2 separate regions of the Homo sapiens genome follow, and region 2 is linked to region 1. The links come from fine-mapping of genetic effects on gene expression. A gene starts in region 1. The other region holds a variant in brackets. All regions are shown on one strand. Distances are between the middles of the regions.

The links.
Region 2: its variant is fine-mapped to the expression of SMG7 in whole blood (INTERVAL, PIP above 0.99).

The regions. Positions count from the first base shown.
Region 1 is chr1:183,468,003-183,479,513 of GRCh38, reverse strand. SMG7 (SMG7 nonsense mediated mRNA decay factor) reads right to left here and starts at 7,015. Exons shown (of 23, transcript NM_001375584.1): 1 at 6,865-7,015. The coding sequence starts at 6,893. SMG7-AS1 (SMG7 antisense RNA 1) reads left to right here and starts at 7,532. Exons shown (of 5, transcript NR_040063.1): 1 at 7,532-8,794; 2 at 8,974-9,049; 3 at 9,715-9,840. RefSeq lists silencers at 7,028-7,177, 9,150-9,339 and an enhancer at 7,333-7,964.
Region 2 is chr1:183,548,814-183,560,324 of GRCh38, reverse strand. It overlaps SMG7 (SMG7 nonsense mediated mRNA decay factor), which reads right to left. Exons shown (of 23, transcript NM_001375584.1): 19 at 11,037-11,117; 20 at 10,402-10,561; 21 at 9,404-9,574; 22 at 9,135-9,280; 23 at 6,134-8,507. The coding sequence ends at 8,394. NCF2 (neutrophil cytosolic factor 2) reads left to right here. Exons shown (of 15, transcript NM_000433.4): 14 at 52-229; 15 at 4,095-4,763. The coding sequence ends at 4,207. Among named protein-coding and RNA genes, the nearest start is that of NCF2, 36 kb to the left of the region's middle. The variant A/TCTTA (reference allele first, on the strand shown) is at 5,909.

The DNA.
Region 1 (11,511 bases):
AAAATGAACCCATGCAGTGCATATATATCTTTACTACATATATTTTCTAAATCAGTGGTTCTCAACTGGGGGTGAATTTACAATCCAGGGGACATCTGGCAATGTGTGGACATTTTTTATTGTCACGATTGCAAGGGAAGATACTGGCATTTAATGGATAGAGGCCAGGGATGCTGCTGAACGTCTTACAATGCTCAAGACAACCCACCACAACAAAGAACTATCTGGACCAAGTCGTCAATAAGTGCCAAGGTTGAGAAATCCTGTTGTAAATGAAACAGACAAGAAAAAAACCCAAAGCTGCCACATAGTCTACTTGAGATTCCTAAAATTTTCTTAGACAATTAGTAGAATCACCTCCTCTTTCCACTGACTAAAAACTGGGTCTAAGGGAGAGTAAAAACAATGTTCCTAAGCAGCTCCATTTACACACTAACAAAAAAAGAGCTGGTTACAAGCTGTCACTTACCATGTGACATACCTGCCAAAATTCCACTCTTATATTTCCTTGTAAATGCTTAGTTACAATTTCCCAGACAGCTGATAAGTCTATTCATAACAATACAGCAACTAAACTAAAATATGGCTTGACTGCAAAACTTTAATGGCAATATATAATGGCCATCTGCCAATATACCTACAAACAGATGAATAATCCACTATCTACAAGACGTATGCTTTATAATTTATTCTCTACACAAGATCAATTAAACTAACCCATCTAAACTTTCAGGCACTCATTCATGACACTAATACAAAAATTTGAAAGGCTAGCCGGAGGCAGGAAACAATTTTTCTCAAGTATAAAACACACCAGCCCTTTTAAAGTGTGAACCACTCTCCACCTCAAAACTGCCTCATGAAACTTGCAATACTAGTGGGTCCAGATCTTACTGTAACACATCCATTAAAAACAACAACATAAAACTCAGCAATTGCTTCTTCTACCATGAAGGCAGAAGACCACAGCTGTTAGAAAGCAAAGAAATGAAACCTAAGATAGGACAGGAAGTATACATTTTGAATCCAAATGAAACCACAAGGGAAGCAGAAATTAACTGCCAAAATAATTTAGTCAGACAATATCCAAGCAGGTAATAAGCTATTAACACTGTTATAACAAAGACTTATAAGCCTAAAGAGACAGTCATTCATTCAAAAAATGTCACCACCTTTGGCTGATATTCCGGGACAAAAGCTACTTTACATTCTGTAAAGCATGTACCTGGTGGAAAGGAAGGGGATGGGGCAGGTGAAGAAGACTTCGTGGACCACATGGACTAAAATCAGCATGTGCTCTAAGACTTCTAGAAGCTTCAGGATACAGTGACTATCTGATCTAGCATTACTAGACTCTTCTAGAACCTGGAGACCATCCTATTTATATATTCCTCCCAATGCTCCCACTATCTTCTCTGTTCCTCTCCCCAGGCTAGGATAAGGCTTAGCTTGCTACTTTATCCAGCCTTATCTCCACTATCTCTCTGTTTCAAGATTTATAGTGATACATTTTTATTTTATACCATATTGGATATTTTACTTCCTATTTAAATGACAACCATTTTTCTGCTGGCTTAGAAAACAACCCTGTGGCTGTTATATTAGTAACAAAACTTCTGACAAGTGAGCCACTGAGATGCAGCGTCTTCACTATACATGTATCATACAAAAAATATATGTATATATACACACATATGTGCATAGACACATATACATATATGTATACATACACACATACACACATGTATATATGCACACATATGCACACACATGTATATATGCATATATACACATGCACACACGTATATATGCATATATACACATATGCACACACGTATATATGCATATATACACATATGCACACACGTATATATGCATATATACACATATGCACACACGTATATATGCATATATACACATATGCACACACGTATATATGCATATATACACATATGCACACACGTATATATGCATATATACACATATGCACACACATGTATATATGCATATATACACATATGCACACACGTGTATATATGCATATATACACATATGCACACATGTATATATGTATATATACACATATGCACACATACACACACACACACACACACAAAACAAAACAGATACTTTCTGGACCTTTCCTGTAAAGGAGTCTAACAGTAGGAATCCACTTCAAGTGGATCTCACTGAAACACTCACAGCATAGGAAGAAATTAGAGACAAAAGAGAATAGTGAAGGAAGAAAAGGAGGAAAGTTGAAGGGAGCATAGAGTATGAACAGTGGCTCCCACAATGGCAGCAGAAGTCATTCGGTGGCACCTGTGCCACCTTTTATAACAGGATTTGACCTGTTTGACTGGTATTCCCTATAGCTATGATTATTCTACTTTCTCATCTTCCAAAACAACTTTGATGTCTTCTCTGTCTGGTACTTTAATACTTCCCCCACTCCTGCTTTTCCAACTTTGATATGTTAATTTCCACTTTTCTTTTTTTCAAAATGCCATTATTTTAAAGCATAATATTATACCTCACCTGCGGCCTATCCTAACCTTCTCCTACCCCCATCAAATGAATTGTATTCAATACACCCTTTCTTTTACTCAACAGAGGTGTCAAAGTCTTTTAAAATCTTTCATTCTGTCATAAATCAAAAGAGAAAATACTCTGAATTCTCCTTCAATTTGAGTAATAAATTCCCAATGTTATTCGGCCTAGAACCCTCATATTTAAGATCATATTTTTATTTTTATAAAACATAACAAAGTATTTTCAACTTAACTGATTCTCTTAGAAGTCTTGTCAGTGTATTAAAAAGATACTTACCTTTCAACAAACAAAAAATTTCATTATCCTTTCCTGCCCAGAATATCATCATCTTTCCCACATAGAAGATAGGTTTTCTTCCTTTCATCTCTGCTCTATTTTTATAACTTGAGACTAATTCAGTTCCCTTGATGTTGAATTCTCTCTTTATTGGTCTTACTGGGACTTCTTGCCTCCTATCTTCATTTCTGACCCTTCTGAAACAGCCATCTTGCTCCTTGGTTTCCCACCACCCCACCATTTCAATGCCAGACATCCCAGCTCATTTACTCTAACAAATTAAAATTCAGCCAAGACAAAACTAATTTTCATCTACATGAGGCAGGATCTGTAGCTATAGAGATTAAAAATTGCCCAGTCATGATCTTCCACCACTGACAAAGGTAGGCAAGAAAATTCTTCAAGTCAAGGTCACGAAAACAATTGCTACACCCCCCAACCACATCCATTCAGCAATACTCGGCATCCTCCCTGAAGTGTCTATAAAAACCAACAGTTCTATTTTCAAAGAACGTGAACATAATGCTTCCCTAAAGACATTCTCTAGTGTCCCCACTGCAGACTTTAAATGGAATGATTATCTAAAAGAGGAGGAGGGAAATTCAGACTGGCACAAGCCTTTATGATTCCCACAACCACCACCTAGGTCTCAGACTTCTAACACTTGTTTTAATTTACTTAGGACAAATGCCTAAGATTGAGACAAGACTGGCTCCAGGAATCTTTAAGGGACCCCAGGACCTATGCCTCCCCCATTTTGCCTGCTCAATTTTAGCTGAAAAATATCATTGTATTCATTTTTTTTCTCCCTTCTTCAAAGAACTAAGTTCATCTCAAACTATCATTGATTCCACATCTAAGGAAGTCTTCCCTACCATGTCAAGCTATAAAATATAAGGCACATTAACAAGAAGCCTCTCAAAGTCCACTGATCTTCCCCATTAAAAGTACCACCACTCTGCCAATTTGTTTTTCATAACTTTCTAGATCCACTGCCAGTACCTTATTCAGGACCAAAGTCCCAAAGGGAATCTTTTGTAAGGAAAAGAACCTTACAAAAAGGACCAATTTTGAAGTCTTCCCCTTTTCTAAGCAGTAGTCACTCCCCAATTAATGTCAGGCTCTAACAACCTTACTTTTCTCTGTTATCCACCACTACATTACACAGAGTCATTTTCCTAACACATAGCTGTGAACATATTAATTCTAGCAAATCATCTCAGATTCTCCATTGTCTACCCATTTTAACTATAAATTATGGAACATGATATTCAGGATCCTCTTAAATATGGTCACCTTATCAAATAGGATTTCCCCGACCACTTTGTCCAGATAAAACAGTACATCCCTGTCTTACTTTATTCCTCTTCCTAGTGCTTGTGACCACCTGATATATATTTAACTGCTATGTTTACTGACTGTGCCCTTCTACTATAATATATCCTCCCATGTTCACCCTTTTATTCACCAGTGTACCCTCAACACTAGAATATATTATGTTCTCAACTTATATTTGTGGAAAGAACAGATGAATACTGACATGCAGTGTACTACAGCTGACTTGAAGTTAGAAGACCTACATTTCAGTTAGTTTCCACATACCAGCTATATGAGCCTCAACAATTTTACCTTCTTTGGGCTTACATTCCTCATGTGTAAAAGGAAAGGGTCAAACTTGATAATCTCTACAACTCTTAAGTTTTCTCAGCTATATCACACTACCTTGTTGTCTAACTGGACTGAATACCTCCCTTCCCCCCAGCTTCCCTACCTACATAACTCTGCTCAGTTTCCTTCCATTTGGAATTCCCCGCTTCTCAATCCACATCTGTCAAAATGAACATTAAGGATGAACAATATCCTAAGTGCCATTTTCTTGAAGTCTAACAAAGTGTAAGCTCTGTAAAAGGAGGGTGGAGTTGTTCTTTTTCTATTCTCAGATGTTGGTACAATGCCTCCCATACAGGTGATCAACAAAACAACTAATGAATCATGAGTACATGAATGAGCAAATAAACAAAGTCTTTCCTGATTTCCTCCCATTGCTCAGGTGATCTCCTGCCTTTGGACTCAAAACACTTCGTATCTTTTATTTTTATTTATGTATTTACTTATTTATTGAGACGAAGTTTCACTCTTGTTGCCCAGGCTGGAGTGCAATGACGCCATCTCGGCTCACTGCAACCTCTGCCTCCCGGGTTCAAGCGATTCTCCTGCCTCAGCCTCCCGAGTAGCCGGCATTACAGGCGCCCACCACCATGCCCAGCTAATTTTTTGTATTTTTAGTAGAGACGTGGTTTCACCATGCTGGCCAGGCTGGTCTTGAACTCCTGACCTCAGGTGATCCTCCCGCCTAGGCCTCCCAAAGTGCTGGGATTACAGGCGTGAGCCCCCGTGCCCGGCAACGTTTGGTATCTTTCATGGTACTTACACTCTGTGCTGTTTAATTTACTTGCCTAACAGATACTCAACTGCAAATTCCTTAAGACTAATCAGCACCCTGATGGTTTCCATCTCTCTATAGCACCTACAACAGATCTTTGTCATAGCTATATTTATTTGAAATATTAAACAACAAAGGGATATCTAAGATGAAAAAAAGGACCTCAAATTACAGACATCATTCCAACTGTCCTGTGGTCACTGGGCATATATGTTGTGTTAAAATCAAGCATTCAAGCATTGTTCAAATATCTCATCATTCTCTTCTCTCCCTATTATGCTTAATAAAACTTTACTACTTTAAAAATTATAATGGCCACCCTATGTATCAGGTAACTACACACCTCTTGCAATATACATATAGGGATCCACACACGTCAATACTTTCATGTCACTAAACAGCTAAAGTGACTTTTCCACTCATTTCAGACTTCCACCTCATCCAACTCCCTCCTCCGCAAGGTATGAAACAATTTTTTAAAAAACATCTTTCCATAAGGCCTCCCTTTCTTAGTTCTGCTCCTGAAAGACAAAAAGGACCAATTTTAAAGTCTTCCCCTTTTCTAAGCAGTAGTCACTCCCCAGTTAATTTCAGGATCTAACAACCTTACTTTTCTCTATCAAGATTTTTGACCCACTTTACCTCTGCCTCCAAGCTCTTACTCAGCTTCCATGGAACCTTTCAGCTGACACAAAAGCTGGTGTCCTTCCATTCAATATGTTCTCGCCATCAGGTACTAAGTTCAACCTATCTACATCTTCATCCTGAAATGTGCATCAATCGCCGCGCCCCCCACCCCAGACACACATCTCGCACACACACACACTATTCCCATGTGTCACTCTACCTCTGACATACAAGTTCCTTACACCACTCTTAATGAATACACACGACTCTCAGAATGGTATCTTCCGACTACACTGATTCTAACCCAGTTTCTTCTGAAAAACCCAACCTTGTCCACAGTGCCTCCCTCTTTCCTCACTTCCCCATCTATTCCCCTTCACGCCTCCCCACACCGCCAACTAACTACAGATGACATTATTCCTCAATACTCCCAACCCGAGAATGAAGAACAAGCTCCAGTTTCCTGCGGTCTCCCTCTCCCCCTGTCTGCCCTCCGCGGTTCCCCCGCCCCAACACCCCAGGTGTGCAGACTTCCTCCCCGTCCTCTACTCATGCATCGCTCCAACCAATCCCACGCCACACCACGAGTCCCCTGCCACGGGGATCAGACTCCTCCACACCCACCTCCACTCGGGGTCGCCGCCGCCTCCCCGGACGTTTCTCTCCACCCCTCGCTAGCAAACCCGAGACCAAGGGCGCGCGCGCACATTCTCACGCTTCCCCAACCTCCCTCCTCGCACCGGGACGAGCCGGCTTCGCCAGAGCTCAGCCCGGGCGGTAGGGGCTAGGCACCCATACCCGTTCCGCCCCCTCCCGCAGATCCCCTTGCAGTCTCCGCCGACCTGCCCGGCGAGGAGAGGACGCAGCAACTCCCCCGCCACCCCGGACTTACCTCGGTGTCTGTTGCTCCATGCCCCAACCTGCGGCCCGCTCCCCCTACGTACCAGCCCGGCCTCGGCACTCACCGGAGGTACTGCGCGCTCTGCAGGCTCATCCTCCGCCGCCGCCGCCGCGTCTTCCCGCGAAGCCTCCGTGGGTCTCTCAGGCTCCTCGGAGCGGCCCCGCGGCACCGCGGGTGCTGGCGGCCGCCGCCATCTTCCTCTCCTCCGGCTCCTCCTCGCTCGGCAGGGGGGTGGGGGTGAATGAGGCGAGGGGGAGGGAGTGGGGAAAGCTGCTCTCGCTGCTGCTCTGGCCCGTGGGGCGCAGGGACACTCCGACCCGGGGGGGAGGGGGAGGGAGGAGGGGCGGGGGAAAGAGGAGAAGCAGAGGAAGTCGGCGACCGGGCGAGGGAGGGGGTCCCTCTCGCGAGATTTCAGCAGCGCCTGTCCCTCAGTGATTTCCGCCTCTCTGTAGCGCTCCCTTTTGGGATCAACGAGCTGTGTGGCGCCTGTGCGGCTTCTGAGAGACCGGCTGGTGGCGCTTGGCGGCTTCCTGCCAATCCACCCTTCTCCTCCCGCGCAAGGGGGCAATCCCAATCCCACCACCGGGAACACCCAGGCCAAAAGAACGGGAGTTACACTCAAAGTCTTCCCCCTTCTTATCACTCCTGCCGATTTCCCTCTTCCTTTTTGCACGCCTCCACTCTTCCCCACCGGAAACGCCGCCCCTTCCTCCTACAGTTCCTCCCAGCAGTCCCTCAACGCCTGTCTTCCCTCGCGCGTAGAGAGTGACTCGAAGGACCCCCTCTCCTCTTCGCTGCAGCCCCTCCCCATGCACGCTGGGAGACTCTTGGAGGGGATAAGGTGGGGCCCGGAGAGGAAGAGAAGACAATCGGATTGGATAGGCAGCTGCCATGGCAACTGGAGGCTGTGGTTATATTGTCATAGTAACCGATGTGTGCGGACAGGGTCACCCTCCCCTTGGCCAATGGATTCCCAGGAAACCACCCAGGGTTCCCCGTTGGCTTCCCTTCCATCTAAAGGCCTCCCCCAAGTTAGGAATCGATATAGTTCTCCCCGGTGGTGAAGTCCACTTCCTCCTCCCTTCCCACTTCCCACAGCAACTGGGGGGACACCCCGAGGCATTCACCATGGGCTTTTCCACCCGCCTGCGAGCGGGAACCACCTCCGTAGTTTCCTCTCAGAGCCGGGCGTGGAGAGGGCTGGGCCTGCGAAGAGGATGCATGGCCTGGAGGCTGGCGGGCGGCGGGCTGGAGTCGGGAGGGCGAGGCGACAGCGCCAAGCGGCGAGGAAGGGCAAGGGGTTTCCCCACAACTGCCTTGGGCTCTGGGAGGCGGGATCCCGCCTGGACGGGGTCCCTGAGGGAGGAGAGCGGCACACGACAGCCGCGATGCCTTCCCTGCCGACGGGGATAGCCGACTTCTGGCGAGTCGACCCCTCCCCCAAATCCACCCCACCCGCGTACTCCCTCCTGACCTAGCTGTCGCGAGCCTGCCGCGAGGAGGCCAGGGTGAGGGTGGGAACACATCCTAGAAGGCTAACACGTGGTTTTCTATCATTTAAGCCGGGGACAAGCCGGAAGGCTGACTAGCGCCATCACTCTGATAGGCACCCCGCAGTGGGGATCCTGCTTGATTATTAAAGGCAGACCTCCAAGTTCCTCCCTGCTCTGCAACCTTTCTCTTCTCACGGGTCTGCAGTGTTTTAAAAGTCGTCATTCTGTGTCGTTGAGTTAGAGAGGAAAACATCGGATAAAAGAGGATCAAGAAGAACGAACCCTAGATACATCTGTCTGGTGAAAGGAGTCTAGGAAAAGAAGTTTCATTCTTAGAACAAATCTTTTTGGATATTTATTATGTGTGTTTTGTGTCAGGTTTCGGGCCAAAAAGCTGAAATAAAGAACGAAGTCAATAATAATATGAAGTGTATGAGAAATAGCTGGAAAATTCATCATCCATGACTTGAAGAAATTGACGTTTTACAAGTTATATTTTCGGTTCGTATTGTGGAGTCACTTAAGGAGCTATCCCAAAGTACTTTAGGATATGTAACTATATAAAACCTTCCAAGAATGCAGCCCTCATAGGATAGTTAAAATAAGGATTTTAATGGGCTATTTTGATTTGGTTTGGTCTGGTTTGGCTACCTGATTCCTGCTGTCTTTTTCTACGCCAGGTGAAGAGGCACTTTCAAGATCCTTCTCTGAGACCTGCACCAATAAGACTATACCAATGTTCAGTTGAAACATCAGGTATAAGTTTAGCGGAAACGAAAGTACAACCTGCTTTGAAATAAATTCCAAGGACAGATTGTCATTAACGAAATAGAAAGTGGACTATGCCCCTCATGCTGCCAGCGCCTGGTATGGTGCGGCGTGACACGCAGCGCTTGCGGCAGTACAATGCCCCCAATCACCCGCCCCGCCCCGACGCGCCGCCCACTCACGGCAAAGAGAGCCACCTAGTGAGGGATTATTCTCATTTCCGCGGTGGGGTTCTGCTTTTCTTTCTACCATGAGCGCCCAAGGATAGACACTCCTACTACCTATTACCTCAAATAGCCTACATTTCTTTCCGAAAATTTATTGGTTAGATATTTTTCTTTTTTTTTTTTAATTTAAAGACCAGTGTGATCGTGTATTGGTTAGATTTTTTAATTGGTTAGATTTCAACCAGAATAAAAATTGTAATAATTACCCCCTTACTAATCATGGTAATAGCCATTTATGTCTGTGGCACATATCTCCAATAAAGAGTGTATGAACAGTTATCATACATTCCTGATAAGCAATCTAGGAAAATATTACTACTATCTTCTCATTTTGGAAATAGAGAAACGGATCAGAAAGATGAATCCTTTTGTTAGTGTTTGCTGATTTATTCCATAAACATTTACTGAGTACTTATTATATTTCAGACACTGTTCTGGTTATGATGGACACCACAGTGAAAGAGACCTGGTCCCTGCCTTGAGGAAACCCAACTGCTGGTAGAGAGCTCAGAGTAATGATTAGGATGCAATATGAGGGATGCAGTAATTGGGGTAAGAACAAAGTAGGAACACATGAGGTCAGAAATAATAAAGTCTGTGTTTTATAGCAGCTTTCCTAAGAATCTTATAAGAGTCTTCAATAGCTTTACAATATCTCTAGCTAAATAGAAGAATAGTAGTATATTTTAGAGATTAGAAGACTTTGATACTAATATTAAAATTACCTTCAAAAATCAATAGGACTCAGAAAAATTATTACCTTCTATTTATATACTGTTTAATACACATTTTCCATTTTCATCTATTTCCACTTGTCCTAGTCAACAAACTTGTAGAATTACAAACATCTTTCTTTTTGCAATAGATATTGTTCACCTTTTCCCCCCTACAGATATAAGATCACATCTAAACCAAAAGAAATTAAAGAGAAGCTTCCTTACTTACATTAATCCTACCAGATTTTGTTTTTGGGTTTGTCTTTTTGGCTAAGTGATTTCATGGAAAGATCACAAGCTAACGGACCTGAGTATGCATTCTAACTCTGCCATCTTGGTGTCTGAACTTCAGTTTGCTCCTTGACCAAAATGGAAGCATTACCTGTTATAGGCTTCCTGTGACCTTTAATGATGACATACATGATTGAGTGCCCATTATACAACACTGAACTTGATAAACATTAAATTTTTTTCTGCCTTTTTGCTTTTTTTTTTTTTTTTTTTGAGACAGAGACTTACTCTGTCACCCAGGCTGGAGTGCAGTGGCACAATTTCAGCTCACTGCAACCTCTGCCTCCTGGGTTCAGGCAATTCTTGTGCTTCAGCCTCCCAAGTAGCTGGGACTACAGGTGTGTGCCACCACGCCCAGCTAATTTTTGTATTTTCAGTAGAGACAAGGTTCACCATGTTGGCCAGGCTGGTCTCAAACTCCTGACCTCAAGTGATCCACCTGCCTTGGCATCTCAAAGTTCTGGGATTACAGGTGTGAGCCACCTTGCCCAGTCCCTTTTGCTCTTTTATATCAAGCTAAAAAGAGTAAAATAGAACTACTACAGCATAACATTATTTTTTAAAATAATACTCTATCTAGTCTTTTTTTTTTTTAAATAGAGATGCAGCCTAACTGTATTGCCCAGGCTATCTATCTCTAACTCCTAGCCACAAGCAGTCCTCCCGCCTCAGCCTCACAAGTAGCTGGGATTTTAGGTGTGAATCACTGTACCCAGCTCTCAATCTAGTCTTTGTCTATAATACTCATAGGTCTGAACTCACATTCAAATCTATTGGCATCCAGTGCTAGAAGATAGATTTCTTTATTCATGACTGATTACAGAAAAGAACACAATATTAGGACATTGTGAGTCCAATGCTAGAGATTTAAAACTTTTCAAAAACCTTTTATCACATAAAACAGGCTAATATAACCACATTTCTGTCCAAGTAGATGGAATGGCCTCTTTTCAATCAAACACAGTACTTGCTGAGAAGCTACTCTTAACATTCTTACCAAATTTACCCAGAGCTTTGGTAACCTGACGATTAATACATAGCAGGCCTCCTCCCTTTTTATAATAATAGACAGCCTGTGCCATGACATCGTAACAAGCCCTAATTTATTTTAATATTTATCCTATATATTCTGAATGTTTATAAATCCTGTGCACAATTAGGAACTTGGTAAATCATTCTCATCAAAGCAGAAACACATTTATTATCAGTTGCATAC
Region 2 (11,511 bases), 81 kb before region 1:
TGTTCACTTGGCAGGAAATTGGGAAAATTAACAGGCCCTTTATTATTTCAGGGTGACCAAGGCTTTCCAGATGAACCCAAGGAAAGTGAAAAAGCTGATGCTAATAACCAGACAACAGAACCTCAGCTTAAGAAAGGCAGCCAAGTGGAGGCACTCTTCAGTTATGAGGCTACCCAACCAGAGGACCTGGAGTTTCAGGAAGGGGATATAATCCTGGTGTTATCAAAGGGTAAGTGCTACTCCAAGACTATAGAAACAAATTTACATGTTAGCAGAAACAAGGTCAAGGGCAGAGAGAAGAAAATATCAATAATCTACAAACAAAACTTTAGCCAGTGTTTTCAACCCCCTTCCTAGCATCTAGCTGGAGGGAGCAAAGTTGAGCACTCAGACTTTCCCTGTCTATTGCTCTAGTAGCCAGGAAAGCAACAAGAAGCTGAGTTGTTTTGTTTTTGTTTTTGTTTTTGAGACAGAGTCCCCCTCTGTTGCCCAGGCTGGAGTGCAGTGGCACAATCTCGGCTCACTGCAACCTCCCCCTCCTGGGTTCAAGCAATTCTCCTGCCTCAGCCTCCTGAGTAGCTAGGATTACAGGCGCCCACCACCATGCCTAGCTAATTTTTGTGTATTTAGTAGAGATGGGGTTTTGCCATGTTGACCAGGCTGGTCTCAAACTCCTGGCCTCAAGTGATCCAACTGCCTCGGCCTCCTAAAGTACTGAGATTACAGGCATGAGCCACCGCACCTGGCCGGCGATAAACATCTTGATTATTAAAGAGGAGTATGCTTTGGAAACCATGGATTCTCATTCCCAGAGGTAACAAATTGGGCTGGAATCACTTTGCCTTTGCATCAAGCTGTATGACCTTCTGCAAACCATAGTTCTTTGAATTAATGTACTTTTCAAAGAGAAAAGTAGGTAAATTTTGCCTTAAAAACCAGCTATTCAGAACTATCCTGTGTCTCTGGTGACTTTCTTGATTCTGTTTGTAATGAACAGACTAAAAATTGAAACAGCATGCCTGTAATCCTAGCCACTAGGGAGGCTGAGGTAGGAGGATCACTTGAGGCCAGGAGTTCAAGGCTGTTGCCTGGGCAACACAGCAAGACCCACCTCTTAAAAGTGGAGAGTTCTAAGAATCCCTGGAAGAGTTTGTTAAATCAATTCCTGGGCCCACCCTCCAGAGATTCTGATTCAGGTCTGGGGTGGGGCCCACCAACTTGCATTTCTACCAAGTTTCCAGGTGATGCTGGTCTACTGCCTACACTCTTAAGAAGCACCATTCCAACTCGTGGTTTGCCAGCCTAATTCTCTACCTCGACACAAAAAAGTCCCATCATAAAAGCCCTGCTCATACGCTGAGTCTGTGCACTACCAATGCAAAGCAGTGAAAAACTACCATCAATTATAACAGAAAATCCAACAGACAAAGAGAGGGGGAAATTTTAAAGTTAATGAGGGTAGGCTGGGCCTGGTGGCTCACACCTGTAATCCCAGCACTTTGGGAGGCTGAGGTGGTGGATCACTTGAGGCCAGGAGTTGAAGACCAACCTGGCCAACATGGTGAAACCCCATCTCTACTAAAAATGTAAAAATTAGCTGGGCGTGGTGATGCACATCTGTAGTCCCAGCTGCTAGGGAGGCTGAGGCAAGAGAATCGCTTGAACCCGGGAGTGGAGGTTGCAGTGAGCCGAGATTGCACCACTGCCCTCCAGCCTGGGTGACAGAGCGAGACTCTGTCTTAAAAAAAATAAAAATAGGCCGGGTGCAGTGGATTATGCCTGTAATCCCAGCACCTTGGGAGGTCAATGTGGGCTGACTGCTTGAGGTCAGGAGTTCAAGACCAGCCTGGCCAACATGGTGAAACTCTGTCTCTGCTACAAATACAAAAATTAGCCGGGTATAGTGGTAGGTGCTTGTAATCCCAGCTATTCAGGAGGCTGAGGCAGGACAATCTCTTGAACCCAGGAGGAGGAGGTTGCAGTGAGCTGAGATTGTGCCACTGCACTCCAGCCTGGGTTACAGAGTGAGACTCAGTCTCAAAAAAAAAACAAAAACAAAAACAAAAAAATTAAAATTAAAAAAAAAGTTAATGGGGGTAGAGAGAGTATACAACAAGTGTGTAGCAATTAATTAAAAATATGAGTAGTATAGGCTGGGCGTGGTGGCTCATGCTGGTAACCCCAGCACTTTGGGAGGCCAAGGTGAGTGGATCACTTGGGGTCAGGATTTGAGACCAGCCTGGCCAACATGGTGAAACCCCATCTCTACTAAAAATAAAAAAATTAGCCAGGCGTGGTGGCGTGCACTTGTAGTTCCAGCTCCTTGGGAGGCTGAGGCAGGAGAATCACTTGAACTAGGGACATGGAGCTTGCAGTGAGTCAAGATTGCACCTTTGCACCCCAGTCTGGGCAACAGAGTGAGATTCTGTCTCAAAAAAAAAAATATGAGTAGTAGTAATATAGAAGCAGAGTGTTCCAACAAGAGAGAATGGTAACTCAGTGGGAAGAACTGGGTTGAACACCTCCAAGTGCCACTTTAAAGGTGCCTAAATCAACCAACCAGCTCAATTGTCTGGAGTTTGGGAGAGGGAGCAGGAATACAATGAAAGAACACACTAAAACAACCTTTTGGGTAGATATGGAGAGAAGCCAGTATGCGTCTTACTATGACCTATCTGTACAAGTCTAAGTTGAGGAAATACCCATATTGTAGCACTTCAACAGAAAACAGAATTTAGCGGTCAGGGTAGGACAGAGGGGAGTTCAATTGCATTCAAGTTATGAGATGGTCTCATCTACAAAGTGTTTCTCAAACTTTAATGTGCATGTGAATCACCTGCGAATCTTCCTAAATGGATTCTGACTCTGGTTTGGATCTGGGATTTTTCATTTCTAATATGCTTCCAGTCCACGACCTACCCTGTAAGAAGAATCAAGACAGTGATTTGCAGTTAGAATTACCTAAGGGAACTTTTGAAAAAACTGCTGCCCAGTCACACCACACATTAAAGCAAAATTTCTGGGGGCAGGATCCAGGCACCAGTGCCTTAATGTCTGATCTAGATGTACAAAGACAAACTTCTGAACTGGCTGTGTGGTCAGGTAGGTGGGCTTTGGAGATCATACCTAAGTTGTCTGATTTTTACTGGCAGAATGGCTCTGAACAAACTATTCATCTCTCTGGGTCTCCTTTTCCTTAGTAAAATATGGATACCTACAAGTTATTATGAAGTCTGAATATATTTTTTAAGTACAATGCCTGCACTCTATTAAAGGCTCTGAGTAGGAGCTATTAAAATATTTATATTTAACAAACATGTACTAACCCATCACTAGCTCCAGCTCACCTGTTTAATGGAGTTCAGTGAAAAGAAGAAAGTTTACTAAAGAACTTTCATTTTTAATATATTTAACCAATGGCATGTCCCTTTTCTGTAGTCAAAACAAAGATTCCCAACAAAGCGCAGGTAAAATTCTCTCCTCTCTTAAAAAATTGGGCCAGGCACGGTGGCTCACCCCTATCACCACAGCACTTTGGGAGGCTGAGTTGGGTGGATCACTTGAGCCCAGGAGTTTGAGACCAGCCTGAGCAACATGGCGAGATCCTGTCTCTAATAAATACAAAAATTAACCAAGCGTGGTGGCACAGCCTGTAGTTGCAGTTACTTGGGAGTCTGAGGTGGGAGGATTACTTGAGCCCAGGAGGCAGAGGTTGCAGTAAGCCCAGATTGTGCCACTGCACTCCAGCCTGGGTGACAGTGAGACCCTGTCAAGGTTGGGGGTGGGGAAAGGACAGAAATTCTATTTAAGGATTCGTTGTTCAATTTCTTTGACCCTTCTTCTCTATCTGGTAACTTTTTGAAAAACATAATTTATCCTTCTTCATTTTGCTCATTATCATGTTTAAGACAGATCAATAAGATGGTTAAACCCTGTGTTCACTCTCAAACCACTTTGCAATACTGTCTTTTCCCTGTTGATCACAATTAGGGGTGGGGAAGGGTGACAGATAACAAATTCTGTGTGGAATAGCCAGACAGGGTAATCTTCCTACAGTGGTTTTAGAAATCCATGTGTACTTTTCCTTTTATCAGTGAATGAAGAATGGCTGGAAGGGGAGTGCAAAGGGAAGGTGGGCATTTTCCCCAAAGTTTTTGTTGAAGACTGCGCAACTACAGATTTGGAAAGCACTCGGAGAGAAGTCTAGGATGTTTCACAAACTACAAAGCTGAAGAAAATGAAGCCCTATTACTTGTTTGTAAGATTTAGCACCCTTCTGCTGTATACTGTACTGAGACATTACAGTTTGGAAGTGTTAACTATTTATTCCCTGTTAAAATTTAACCTACTAGACAATGATGTGAGTACCCAGGATGATTTCCTGGGGCACAGTGGGTGAGGAGATGGGGACAGGTGAATGGAGGAGTTAGGGGAGAGGAAAAGTGGATGGAAGTGTCTGGAAAGGGCACGAGAGAGTCTTCCAGGTACTGATCCTGTTTCTTGCTCTGAGTGCTAGCTAGCCAGCTGTGTTCACACTGTAAACATTCATCAAGCTGTACATTTGGTGCACTTTTCTGTGTCATACCACAATAAAAAAAAACCTAGCATCTTACAAAAACAAGACACCCAAGTCCAGGCCCAAGGAGTAAGTACAAATATTCCTGTTTCTGAACCATTACTGTAATTGGCTCTTAAGGCTTGAAGTAACCTTATAGGTTACTCATAAGGCATATACAAATAAACTTGTTTGTTTTCTTTTTTCATTATGTCTTGTTGCTTAAACAGAACCTAGACTGAGTTAGGTTCTCATGGACTACAACACTCAATTCCACAGAGAATTAATAGAATTACATACCTTTGTACATTCTCAGAGAGGAACATGTGTTAAGAACTCAATACTGAATATATATCAATCGCCAACATTTAAGTGATGAAAAGCAGCGGTGTTCATGAAGCTAGTTCGTAAGTAGTATCTTGTTAGCTGACACTTCGTAATACAGTTATGCACTGCTTCACAATGGAGACATGATCTGAGAAACGTGTTGTGCAAACTCATCTAGAGTGCACTTACACAAGACTAGATGGTATAGCCTACTACACAGCTAGGTTACCAGGTATAGCCTACTACTCCTAGGCTACAAACCTGTACAGCATGTTACTATGTTGAATTCTGCAGGCAACTATACCACAATGGTAAGTAAGTATCATCAGTGTAAACAAACATAGAGAAGGTCAGCAAAAATGTATTATAATCTTATGGGAGCATCATTGTATATGCAGTCCATTGTTGACCAAAACATTGTTATATGGTAAATGACTGCATATACTATGCTATACTAATATACATAACAGAATGCTATGGATTTGGCTAACCCAATTGTCCAATTTTTCAGGATTAACTTGGGTGAAGGATTCTGTAACTAACTAAACTATTAGACCTTAAGGCCTGGCCTTAGTTCCTCTCCCTACCCACTTCTTGTTGTAGCGTATGTGGAGCTTTGCTAACAATTTTTCAAGTGTGCAGGCGCCTGTGAAAAGCAGAATAAGGAAGTGAACTGCAGACTGAATCAACATGCAGGTGAAAGGATAGCCGGTCAGGGTGAGCACACAGGCATTAAGGTTAGCTATACCACTGGCTTCCAGCACACAGTTGGAAGACCCAGCAAGCTACCAATCACTGGAAACTTTGGACACAACTCAAAGAAAAGAAACCCCAAAGCTAAGAAGAAGAATTAATTAATGTTGCTGCTAATCAGATTCAGTGAATTTTTACAGGCCAAAAGGATAAACTCTCTGAACTGCCTCAGTAACAGCTACAATAGGAATAAAAATAAAAATGATGGGCTCTTAATTCCTTAACATAAGGCATTCTTTTATTAAATAAAAGAATTTTGATAATCGATTTCTT[A/TCTTA]CTACTCATGCCTTTCCATTACAATTAATTATAATTTCCGTAATTCATTGGTTTGGAATGCTACTAAAAGCAAAATTAACCCTGAAAAATATTCAAGTTCTGACCATTTATGCCTTTCCCTGGATGACCTGTGAGTAGTTGAAATTCTTGCCTTTTAAGTTGGATTTTCTTCAATACTTCTTTTATATCTTTTAGGATAGAAAAGAAAGAATCGATACACAGATCTGGTTGGAGAGAACATGGTTTAATTAAAGGCAAAGCTGATTTTCAGCAGCTGCAGGTCTTGCACAGACAAAAACAAAAAACAAAACCCAGAAAACAAAACAAAAAACCACAAAAGAAAGTTTACTACACAAAACCAGTTTCTGATAAAGATTCTCCTCCCCCTCATTACTCCACAGTGAGGATGATAAGGCGAGGAATCCCGCCCCAAGAGTCAGAAAACATTCCAAACACCAAATTCTCATGCAGAATGGGGCTTTAGATAGGAGCTGGGTATTACTGGGAGTGAGATGGTAAACCTGGTTAGCTTGTCTAGGGCGCAAGAATCAGTGACAGTTCAAACACTGGAATGTTGCAGCTGCCTGAATGCAGAGCTCAAACACACAAACTGGGTAAAGGTAGTAGGAAAAAGGCTTGGGAAGAGGAGAGAAAGGTGGACACAGGGAAGGGGCTGAAGAGAAGCACAAAAGGTTTCATATTGCCATTGGGTAGGGGGCTTCACCTTTTCAGACCTTTCAAAAAAACAAAACCCAAACACCATGTCAAACTAAAAGAGCAATAATGTAAGCATACGGGGCGGGGGGGGCTCCAACCACTCTCTCTGAAGAGCAATGAGCGTTATCTCACCCCTTTTCATTGCTGGGGTTGCCCAGACTGCAGTGACAACTGGGGCTCCTGGATGTGCTTTGCTCTACAGCTGTCTTCCAGCTCTTAAGTTCCACACTAACTCCATACACTCGCACACACAACCCCTCCCCTCTGGGACAGCAGATGGGCACGTGTGTGTACACAAACATACAGACACACAAAGGAGAGACCTCCCAGAAAATAAACCCTACCACTAGCACAGCAATTGAACAATTAGATTGTTTCCATAATTTCCCCTTAAAATATTACTTTTCCAGGAAATGACTAACAGAAATGCTGTCCTTCTGTTTCTACACAAGAACATTTTCAGTCCTCTTTCCTCCTAATAAATATCATACAAAGAGTTTATTTTCCTTTCTTTCGTCTCTTCCAAAATGGACGACGTCGTGTTTTCTTCTGTGCCTGATGGGCACATGTCCGTGCTGCCTTGAATTTCACTCTGAAAGTGGAGGCTGGGAGACTGCAGCTGGGCAGGGGCCTGGGCCCTCTGTGGGCTACGCAGATACTGCTGCTTCCTTCCTCTTCAGACTGTCTTTTGGGCCCCAACTGCTGGACCCCATGCTGTTGCTTCTTGGGGAGATGTGATGTTGCACACATTAGGAATAAAAACAATTACTAGCATACAGCATTGGGTAAAAGAAGGGATGGAGATGGGGCAGGAGGGTGGGAAGTAGAATGGGGGCACAAAAACCAACCAAAGAAAAAATAACCACACTGAAAGCTTCTACCTATTAGAACGTGTCAGGCTGTGAATGGACTAGCCTGCCTTCTGTGAGACTGCTTGCTGTGCGACTGTAAAATGTACAGGAATCAAAAACGTAATTTGAAATCCTACAGCAGTCTACCTGCTAGTCCAGCCCAGCACCACCACCCACACTGTATCCTCGATTGGGGCTCGAGCACCTACAGAGTGAAGGGCATTCCCTGCTGGAGTCTCCTGGCCAGAGGAAGGCCTACCAGAGCCTTCTGACAGGCCTTGAACTCTCCCTTATGGAACATTTCCACTGGCTGAAGAGGTCGGTTCCCCATCCTGTCACCACCAACCTCTCACAGGAGCAGTGAACGGGGCTTTCCTTGCTACACACTGACTAGAAGCACACCTGTGTATGGAAGAATTCAGTGTGATATTTTACTACTGAGAGTAATAATAATAAAAGATGTTTAAGAATAATTTCAACTACATTCTCAGTCAGCAAAGCAATCATTAATGGATTCCTATTTTATTCCCCAAAGAGGAAAAAAGGACTGAGAAGTTCCCATTGGCTTCTCCCATCTGCCTTCCCTTCTCAGCTTTCACTTCCCATGTGGCTGGGGACATGCACGATGGAGAAGGTGAGAGGCGGTGATACCAAGTAACTGAGTGAGATAAACAGCAGTTCCTCTCTCTCTCCCTCCGGAGGGCCCCGGGGGGACGGAGAGTTCCTGATGGATTTTTCTTTTTGTTGCACTGCGAACATTTCGTGCACACTCAGCGGGCTGGTGGAATACTTACACCCTCTTGACAGCGAGAAACAGAAAAGAGGGCTGCCACCTGCAGGGGACTGTGTGGGCCAGTCCTGCAAACCCAACATGCCATGGTTTATGGAGCCTTCATTCCCAGGTTGCCACTTTGGCCTCAGTGTGGAGGGTTCATGGTGCCTTGTCCCCGTTGCTGTTTCTGCTTCTGCTGCATTAACAGCTGCTCCAGAGCAGAAGGTCCAGGATGCATCATGGAACTGGACCAGATAGACTGAAAAACAGTCCAGATCTTGTCAGCAGAGGTCAAATGCCAAGTTGTCTGAAAGGGATTTTTCAATCCCAGCCAAATATAAAGGCATATATATGGCCCCAAAACCCAACCCCACTCCCCATAAAAATCCAGCTATTAGAAAAAGTCATTATAAGACTCTTAAAGCTAGTTAGTTTCCATTAAGACTATTTTAAACCAGAAGAAGTGAAATCACATTTTATGTCAAGTCTTTTTACTGAAACTCAGCTGTATGTGGTACCACACAGGGCATTTACTATAAAGTTTTCAGGCAAATAAAACATTTCTAAAATTAGATACTCTTATTTTGTCAGAAAAGGCTTAAATCAAACATTCCAAAATGAATCAGAATTTTCTTAACCTTAGAATGAAACTAAAACCTTTGTTTTTGTCCTCCTGAAGATACTGCTTTACCACTAGTGAATTCAGAAATTAAAAATTATCACTCAAGAATCTTGTAAGGCAGACCATGTTTCTAGGACTTTGTTATATATGTGCTATGTATCAGTCAACTCCGAGGGCCTGAGAAGTCTAGCTATTTATGTGAATGAAAGCAGAGACACCTTTGCTGTAATAATCTTGTGGTTCTTGTTCCTGAAATCTACTCACCTTTAGGCTTTCCATGAGGACAGCAGAGGAATCCTCCATGGAAGGGCCATGGCCTGTCCAGGTGCCACTCGGAGTGCTGGCCTGATGCCAACTGCTCTCAGAGGATGACGTTGCTGAGAGATAATCAATGCCAAACCCACCCATGGCTAAGGGATGAAAAGAGATAAGAAAAATTCAAGAAGATGTTCTATCACTGCCAATTGCCAGACCCCAGGGAAGGATAGAGTAAATTCTTTCAATTTTGCCTGGCAATGAAATGTAGATCTCACCTGGCTTATCAGTTTTCCACCGATCTGCAGTCCTTCTATCCCTGTTATCTGGAGTCCCAATGGGTCCAAAATTGGAGAATGGAACAGAATTATGGTTGTGTGTTGGAGGAGAGCTGGGTAGGCTGCTTGGGTTAGAGGAATGAGGAGACTGGCTGGCTGGTGTTGAATGATCTATTAAATAATAGCAACACAGGATATAGTAAATCATTGTTTCACAAACATACAAAGAACTACAGGTTCCTGTAGATCTGATCACTAAAATTCTACTAACAATAACCACAGGGCTTTGAAGGAAAGGGAAACTAAAGGCTCCAAAGAGATCTGCTAGATGCACTAATTTGCCCTGCCACACATATCTAAGGCATATTCTTCGCCTTAAAAAAGCAAAATAAAATAGTAGGCAATTTTTGTCAACTGAATGAATGCCCTATTCTCACACGGCTATTTCAGATACATGTTTATTGGTCTTATGTATCAGAAAGAATTTGCTAACCTTAAGAATTACTATTAAGTCAGACTCTAAGTTAAAAATCTCAATTTTAAAAAGTGCAGAGCTGGGCACAGTGGTGTGCACCTGTAGTCCCAGCTACTTGGGAGGCTGAGATGGAAGGACTGCTTGAGCCCAGGAGTTTGAGTCTAGAGTGGGCAACACCACAAGACACTGTCTCAAAAAAAAAAGTGCAATTTTTCTGCAAAGAATGAACACCTACAAATAAAACTAAAAAGCAGCTGAGAACCATAAGATAGAACCTCTATTTTCTCCCTTACATCTCTGCTGGCTACTGAGGATGTAAAAAGTTTTGTCAGTAGCATTTATTACATAAACCGGCTTCTTCTTTTTTTTTTTCTATTTCCTTTCAGAAGTTACAAAAACAAACAAACAAAAAATAAAAATAACCCAACAAATGATATATTTGTAATTACAGAATCTCACTATCCCTTAATCAATCTGAGTGTACAGGAAATGTAAGGTCTATAATTTAAAGAGTAGTTAATACCTGAACTGGCAGGAAGTGATGGAGACCACGGAGTCCCTTCAAAAAGGGAATACAGAGATGTTTCCTGGGGGGCCATTGAGGGACTGAGTTCTGCTTTGGAGCTGGATGTCAGGTTTTTCCCATATACCTCATTGAACATACTATTATTTGGGTATCTTTCCTGAAAGACATGACAGTGAAGTTATAAACTCACCCCAAGGAAAGAGATTTGAGAAAATCCAATGTCTTGTTCATGGATGCTTGGTACACCTTAAGCTTTTCTTAGGAAGAGAAATTTTGAAGGCTTTTATTTCTTTTTGTTTCAATTTTCCAGTCAAATTAATTTTCCTCTTTGCTTTCTCTCACCCTTAAATTTGCTCTGTGTAAACTATCCAGGTTGAAAATGTGAATAATTTATTTGGCTCAAAAAGAGAGCCCTAAGGGTTTCAATATTAATGAGAAGTTAAAGGGTTTTAATTCATGATGTACAAGTCACTAGTATGCCCCAATCAGAGACAAGGGGGATAAAATCAAATATCTGGAATACACTAATACATGGAAAATAAAGAAAAAACAGACATACTGAAACAGTATGAGAAAGACAATGATCAGTCTACACTAAAAGCACACAGCAGGATTCTTCATTGTTCACCTACCTGATTGAGAGAGAATCCGGTGAGGGACAGGAAAGAGGATGAATGTGACATGAGCTCTGAGGGCTTCTCCAATAAGGATTTCTTCACAGTCCCAGAAAAAAAGGTAATTAAGTTATACCTTCTATTTTCTTAATATTAATCTTACCATACTATGGAACCAAAGCAAAAGCATGCCTGTATTCGCCCACTGAGTACAATTTGAGGCTCAGAAGATGTGAATTCAAATCTGTTAACACCAAGACACCGCCTAAGTGCCAGTTGCCACAGGTGCATAGAATCCTCCTTTTAGATCAAACCTAGTCAGAGATTATATTCTGGCAGGGACCAGAGACCCTGGTAAACAGCACTCTGAGTGTTTATGAGGCATGGACCTCAGGAATCCCCTTGTCAATAGTTGCACTTAATCTCAAAACAAAATGCTGAACTGTTCCAACACTGTTTCTCTCCACCCCACAATTTTTAAAACATTAACATT